2 linked regions of the Homo sapiens genome follow. The protein of the gene in region 1 purifies or fractionates together with the protein of each later gene. This does not show direct contact. Each region holds a gene or a part of one and is shown on either strand. Other genes may lie near its edges.

Evidence for each region. The genes of interacting proteins can lie anywhere in the genome.
Region 2: the proteins of MLNR (region 1) and RAB3B purify together in Homo sapiens (affinity purification with mass spectrometry; one large-scale study listed by BioGRID and IntAct). This does not show direct contact.

Annotation. Positions count from the first base shown.
Region 1 is NC_000013.11:49,218,698-49,222,449, reverse strand, and holds MLNR (motilin receptor), read right to left. Parts: upstream 2,113-3,752; coding exon 1,212-2,112; intron 411-1,211; coding exon 73-410; downstream 1-72. UniProt on the Homo sapiens protein: Receptor for motilin.
Region 2 is NC_000001.11:51,931,700-51,935,351, reverse strand, and holds part of RAB3B (ras-related protein Rab-3B), read left to right. Parts: intron 1-1,909; coding exon 1,910-2,034; intron 2,035-3,652. UniProt on the Homo sapiens protein: The small GTPases Rab are key regulators of intracellular membrane trafficking, from the formation of transport vesicles to their fusion with membranes.

The DNA of each region.
Region 1 (3,752 bases):
CTTTATTTCTCTACACACCTGTTTTCCCCAAAGTCTTAGAACTGCAAGAGGAGCCTGGCTTGGCCGTGCTGGTTATCCCATCGTCTTCACGTTAGCGCTTGTCTCGGTGTAGCCCACCGTGTCTCCTCCAGTGTCCCCTGCAACTTCCCCCGCAGTGTCCCTGCTTCTGTGGAAGCCTCTCGGCCTGGACTTCCTTGCGAGCAGCAGTTTAAAGGCCGCCGCTCTGTACTTCTTTGAAATGAGGTTGTAGAGGATTGGGTTGATAGATGCGCTCAGATAGAAAAGTTGCAGAGCGACGATGTTAAAGTACTGAGAGAAGTACATCATCCGCGAATCTTCCGTGTTTATGTAAATGATTCTGCCAACGTGGAAGGGCAACCAGCAAATTATAAATGCCAGAACCACCACCACTGCAACATAAGACACAGCACCGGGATTAACAAAAGCATTGGGAAGCAAATAAACCCCCCACCCCGACAAGGAACCATCTGCAATAACAAGTAACAGCAAAATAAATTAGAGAAAACTTCTACCTAGGCAGATCCTCACCCCAGAAAAAATGACCAGGCTGCAGGCTGCATGGATACTTGCTTTAAAACTGCATAGTAGGCTCCCATATGTGTTATCAAGGCTGGACATAAACCAGAAGGAGCAATTTCTCTGAACAAGCCGCCTTGGCAGGCTTCCTTCCACAAACCCACTTCGGAGACAAGTTTTCTGTTCTCTGTTGAAAAGAATTCTACAACAGGTCTGCACAATCTTTACTTTTTGATACGAGCAAGGTTTACTTTAGCCTTCAGCATCACTTAACATTAAATAAAAAATTTTAGCTTAATGAAATCTCCCTCGTCTTCTCAAGAGCACTGTGAGGACTCCTCATCTGTGGCATCTAACAGGTGGTTGGATTAAGAATTACCAACTCTCCTTTCTGGTCTCAGAGGCTCTGGAAAAGCACTGCTGGTTACTGAATCGGATCCGGGGATCCCACCCTCAAAGCGCCCTGGGGTCCCCCAGAGCTCCTGGGGGACAGGACATGGTTTTCTCGGGGGATGGGAAGTACCGGCGGGTGGAGGCTGGAATCGAAATAGGAAAGGGAGCTGGAAGCGGCGCCCAGAGCTGGGCGAGCAGGGGAAGGGGACCCAGCGTTTGCGCGGTCCCCGGCGGGGCGGACTGCAGGCAGGCGTCTTTGGAACCACGGCGGCTCCACTTACGCAGGACGCGGACGGTCTGCCGGTGGCCTCTCTCCCGCCCCGAGGCGGCCGGGCCTCGCAGCGGCCGCCGGCTGCTCCACAGCTCCCGCCCGATGAGCCCGTAGAGGATGCTGAGGCACAGAAAGGGCAGGAAGAAGTAGGCGGTGGTGACCCACAGCATGACACGCAGCGCGCCCAGCTGCGCGGGGCTCGGCCGGCATTCGCGGCTGAACAGCGCCGCGGCCTCCGCGGTCTCGGGCCCCGACGGCGGGGACGGCGGTGGCGCCCGCGAGAGCCAGAGAGGCGGCGACGAGGCGAGAGGCGAGGAGGCGATCCGCGCGGTGCCATTGAGGCCCGGGACTACGGAGATGCCGGGGTCCTGCTCGACGCCCACCAGGAACAAGAAGGGACCGGCAGAGAGCAGCGCCACGGCCCAGAGCACAGCGATGAGCGCGCGGACGCGGCGCCGGGTGACCAAGACGCGGGCGCGGAGCGGGCGGCAGATGGCCAGGTAGCGCTCGACGCTGAGCGCGGTCATGTGCAGCAGCGTGGCGTAGGTGCAGCCCTCGCCCACGTAGAGGGACAGGCGGCAGAGCAGCGGCCCGAACACCCAGGGCCGCGAGCGCCAGAGGCGGTACAGGTCGAACGGCAGCCCGAGCAGGATGAGTAGGTCGGACACGGCCATGCTGCCCAGGTACAAGTTGGTGGTGGTCCGCATGTCCCGGTAGCGCCCGATCAGCATCACGGTCACCACGTTGCCGCTCACCCCGACGACGAACAGGCACAGGCACACAGCGGTCACCGGCACCAGCGCCCCCAGGGGAAAGGGCGAGCAGCGGCGCTCGTCGCAAGGCGGCAGCGCGGGCCACGGCGGCTCCCGCGCCCCCTCGGGGCCGTCGCTGCCGTTCCAGGGGCTGCCCATGGGTGCTCCGCGCGGCCGCCGCGTCCCGGGTCGGGCTGGGAGCCTGGCGCGTGGTCCCTCTCGGTGAGCGCCTCCTTTCCCAGCCCGCACGCTGCGGGCGCGGCAGGTCAGACGGCGGAGCGCTGCGCTGCGCTGCGGGGCGCGAGAAGCGGCTCTGCGGGGTGGGCTCCGAGGCGCTCCCGAGCTAGCTGCGCGCAGTCTCCGCCCACGGCCGCGGCCCGCCCCGGCCCGGCCCTGCTCCGCTCCCGCGCCCTCTCCCGGGCCCATGCAGTTCCAGGGCGCTTCCCTCTCCACTAACTGGAATACCCGGCGCCCTTAGCGCACGAGCCCTACCCGGTCCGGTGAGCGATGTCTGCACCCTAGACAGCTTTGGTTACAGGACTGAGCACTGTACGGGCGCTTTTGTCAGTCTGGTACTCCGGGCACCTTCGAAGGGATCTGGTCTGGTGGCTGGTAGCTGCCGCTTGACGGTGGAGGAGGGCTCATGGTAATCCTCAGGAAGCCATAATGCTAAATAATAGGAGGGGAGTCTAGACCAGAATCTAGAGCCTCTCCTGTCTAATCCTGGCTCTACAACCGAGTAACTTGTGTAATCTTGGGCTAGTCCTGGTCTCGCCCAGCCCAGTTCTCCTCTTCTGTAAATTCGCGAGTGGTGGAGGGAGCTGACCATATAATTGACCAAATAATTTCTTTTTTTTCTTTTTTTCTTTCTTTCTTTCTTTTTTTCTTCTTGAGACAGGGTCTCACTGTCGTCCAGGCTGGAGTTTAAGTGGCGCGATCACAGCTCACTGCAGCCTCGACCTCCCAGGCTCAAGCAGTCCTCCCACCTCAGCCTCCTGAGTAGCTGGGAGCACAGGAGCGCCCAAGCCCCGGCTAAATTTTGTGTTTTTTGTGTAGTCAGGGTTTCGCCATGTTGGCCAGCCTGGTCTCGAACTCCTGACCCCAGGTGGTCCACCCGCCTCGACCTCCCAAAGTGCTGGGATTACAGGCGTGAGCCACCGCGCCCGGCAGTGACCAGATAATTTCAAGGATCCGTGAGCATGTTTACTTATTATAAAGAACAAGACAAATATTTACGTGGACACTAGAGTACTTTCACATGTGATATGTCATTCTTATGTACAACATGTTTTATAAACTTAAAAAACTAGAGGATTTGTCAACACCGGAAAGAACGAAAATTGGGGAAAGGGGCTAAAACGGATGTTCAGTCTGTTCGGTGTGGTCTTAATAACAATAGCTAACACTTACTGAGAATTTAGATGGATCTGGCCCTGTGCTCTCCATTTAATCCTCATGGCCCGGGGCGCTCCTTTCGCCCATGAACAAAGCGGTCTTGCTTGAGATCAAGCAGGCAGTAAGAGGCGGGACTGGGATATGGGCTCTGGTCGGCCTAATCCCAGAGCTTGCAAGCCTGACGTCCTACTCACTGCCCAGCTCCACCCCCTCAGTGGCTTAAATCCTCAACCTCTTCTCTGGAGTCTCGATTCTGGACCTGACACCTGGCTTTGCCTAGGGCAAGCTTCTCCTGCAGTTCTCTCTCACATGCAGACTGTGAGCTTGGAGGAGGGACACCTGTCGCCTCCCTCATCGCTGCTGTTTCCAGCGGTCCTAAAACCGCCCTCCCTAGCGCTTTCCTC
Region 2 (3,652 bases), on another chromosome or scaffold:
GCCTGGTTTCCTGTGGGCCCACAAGAAGTGGTGGTTGAGTGAATTCCATCCTTTGAGGGAATGGCTTCTCACCATAAATGAGAAGGTTGGTGGTAAGATCAACTTTAAGAGCAGGGTCAGTAGTAGGTTCAGGTTGCAGTTAGGGTTGAGTTAGGTTGTCAGTGTCAGGGTAGAGTCAGATTCAAGATCTGCTTCAGGACTGACCATTCACTGGCTCGTTCATTTATCAGCATTCACTGACACCTTCTTCGCTGTGTGTTCTGTGCTGGGTATTGGCATCCCAAAGATGAATAGGCCGGTCCTTGCCCTCAGGGAGAGAGACAAATTCAGCCAAGTGTAATAGGTGTCATGGTGAACGTGCAGGAGACCAAAAGAGGAAGTAATCATTTCTACCTGATGGGGTCTTTGGGGAATGTTAGGCCCATCTCCACAAAAAGATGTCTTCATAATATAAGAGAGTCCTTTTTTATTTCCTCTTAAAATTTTGTTTTTAATTAAAGAAGTAATACATGCTCACTTTTAAAAATGTGAAAAGTACAGAAATTTGAAAAGGTTTTTTTTTTTTTTTTTTTTTTTGAGATGGAGTCTCGCTCTGTCACCCAGGCTGGAGTGTAGTGATGCGATCTTGGCTCACTGCAAGCTCCACCTCCCGGGTTCACGCCATTCTCCTGCCTCAGCTTCCTGAGTAGCTGGGACTACAGACGCCTGCCACCATGCCCAGCTAATTTTTTTTTTTTAATTTTTAGTGGAGACGGGGTTTCACCATGTTAGCTAGGATGGTCTCGATCTCCTGACCTCGTGGTCCGCCCACCTCGGCCTCACAAAGTGCTGGGATTACAGGCGTGGGCCAGCGCACCCGGCCAAAAAGTATTTTTTAAAAGTCTTATAATCATCTTATATGAAGGTAACCACTGCTGACATTTTGGTTCCTGCAAATAATCATAATCCGAGGCTTCAGGGAAGGTTTATGAATCACATAGGAGGAGGTGGAGGCTAAGTGGATCTAGGAGAAGCTTGAAGAGGCTCCCCTCAAGGTGTTGTGGGATCAGCACTGGGCCCTGGAGGATGAGTTAGTTGTGGGGAAGGACTTCCCAGTGTAGGCAAAAGCACAAGCCATGGAAGAGCTTTTGGGGAATGAGTAAAAAGGTTAGGGAGGCAGGAGAATGGGTAATGAGGCTGGAGAGACACAGCATGAGTGATCTTGAACTGAGGAATCTGGACTTGATCACATAGCTAGCTGGGGGCCAGAGAAGGCTTTTAAGAAAAGATTCATTGTGATCAAATACCTGTTTTAGAAAGACCTCTCTGCCCAGTGAGGAGAGGGATGGCCAGATATGGTAGAGGTGGACTTCAAAAAGATGGATGAGGTTTGCAGCTAGGGCTTAGGAGTCAGCATCTGTGACAGCCAGCAGGGACAGGTATCTGTCTGTCCTCAGCTGAATTAATTGGCAATAACTTGGATGTTGCTAGTCCTGTGGAAGAGAAACCATTTCTTCACACTTCACAGTTTTCTTTTTGTCATAGGAGGGTATGTGTCTTGGTCAGTTTGGGCTGCTATAACAAGAATACTATAGACTTGGTAGCTTAAATAACGGACATTTCTTTCTCACAGTTCTGGAGCTAGGAAGTCCAAGATCAAGGTGCCAGCAGCTCCAGTATCTGGAGACAGCCAGCTTCTTGTTGTATCCTCCCATGGCCAAGAGAGAAAGAGGGCTCTAGCCTCTTTCTCTTCTTATATGGACACATTTATTAGGACTCTAGCCTCATTGACATAATTACATCCCGAAGACTCCACCTCCAAATACCATTACATTGGGGATTAGGCTTCAACATGTAAATTTGGAGGTGGGGACACAGACATTCAGTCTATAGGAATATGATTAACATATCTCTTTCTATCTCATTTTAGGGCTACTCAGATCAAGACCTACTCCTGGGACAATGCACAAGTTATTCTGGTGGGGAACAAGTGTGACATGGAGGAAGAGAGGGTTGTTCCCACTGAGAAGGGCCAGCTCCTTGCAGAGCAGCTTGGTATGTACATGACACATGTATGTGCATGTGTGCATTTGTACACATGCTCATGAGAGTGGGGTAAACAGGGTACGAGTGTGTTTGTATTTATGACATTAGTGTTGTGATTGTGAATTATGTACCTATGTGATCTGTGTGTATTGTTTTATATTTGTATGAGGTACATATGGGCTTTGTGCTGTGAGTTTTAGATAATTCATCATTTTTGATATGTATATATTTTGTTATATTGAATGTGTAAATAAATTTTAAATTTATAAACTCTTTTTTTTTACCAGTTCCTTCCACAAAGGACTTGAGATATCTTATAAAAATGGTCACAATACAACAATAAAAATAAATAAGTAAGTGAGAAAATTGGAGCAAAGGGAAAGCAAGGGTGAGGGAAAAATAAGAGGAAGCTAGGGTAAGTATTAAGTTCTTGGACACCTGCAAGAGTTGGGGCCAAAATGTTGTCTTTGAGCTTCCTAGCAACCTTTGCCAAGAGGGAAACATAATCAGCTACATGGTTTAGAGTGTCCTAGTATAAAAACAAACCCATTATTCCAGAGAAGCACTACTCTTCATCATCAACTGTAGAGCAGACTCTGTATGCTGAATGTGACCATGTCTTGAATATCAAACATCCTTCCAGCACTGAGTATTTATATGCTGTTCTTACAGTTTATCTCAATGCAAATTCATGCTTCTCACCAAAACACAATTCACAACAAAAGTAATAGTATGAAGGAACAAAACTATGTGGTTTGAGTATGTAGCTCATCGGTGTCCTGACTTTTTCCAAGCTTAACATATTTTGATCCTTGTGCTCCTTTGAGGCCTAGGTGCCCAGGCATGTCTCAGTGGCCCCAAAGCAGAACTCTACCTACCTTTGCTTAAAAGAAGAGCTTTTATTTTATGTATTGGGGTCCAGGGTAAGGTTGCCTTACAAAAAGAGTTCCATGCCTGTAGGTTTGAAAGTTTGAAATCTTCCTCTAGAATAGATGTACTGCTTAGCTTTTAGACAGTCTCCCTAAGTATATCTCACATCCTTAGTGTTGTAAGTATTGAGGAGTGGAGAGTTTAAAGTCTCTGACAGTTTCTGAAGAACAGATATTTGGGCTTATAGGTGGGTAATCTGTATAAAATACAAGTGTGAATTGTGTGTTTTATATATTTGTATTATGAGTATGTGGGTGTGTGTGTGTTGTATACTTTTTTCTCCCCAAGGTGTCCTGTAAACTGTAGCAAACTATAAGTGCTTAATAAACAGGGAGGTTGGGTCATCTTGGGCCTTGCTGTCTCTACACTATCACAGAGGTTCTCAGAGTCCAGAAAGTGCCTCCATGTGGTCCATTGACCAATAAGCAAGTGATGAAGCCCACACCTGGTGAACTTTAGACGGTCCCTTTAGGCTTTCAACCTGTAGTCTCCCTGGAGGCTCCCAGCACTCTCCCTGGACTGACTATATTTCATCTGCTTGGAATGCTCTCTTCTACTCCCCATCTTCTACCCTCATCCAGCTGGTGAGACCCCACTCAGCTTTCAAAACAGCTTACACTTCACATCTTCTATGAAACCTTTCCCAGCCCCCTGCCAGAGCTCTTTATTTGTTCTCTCAATGCACCCCATACGTAAA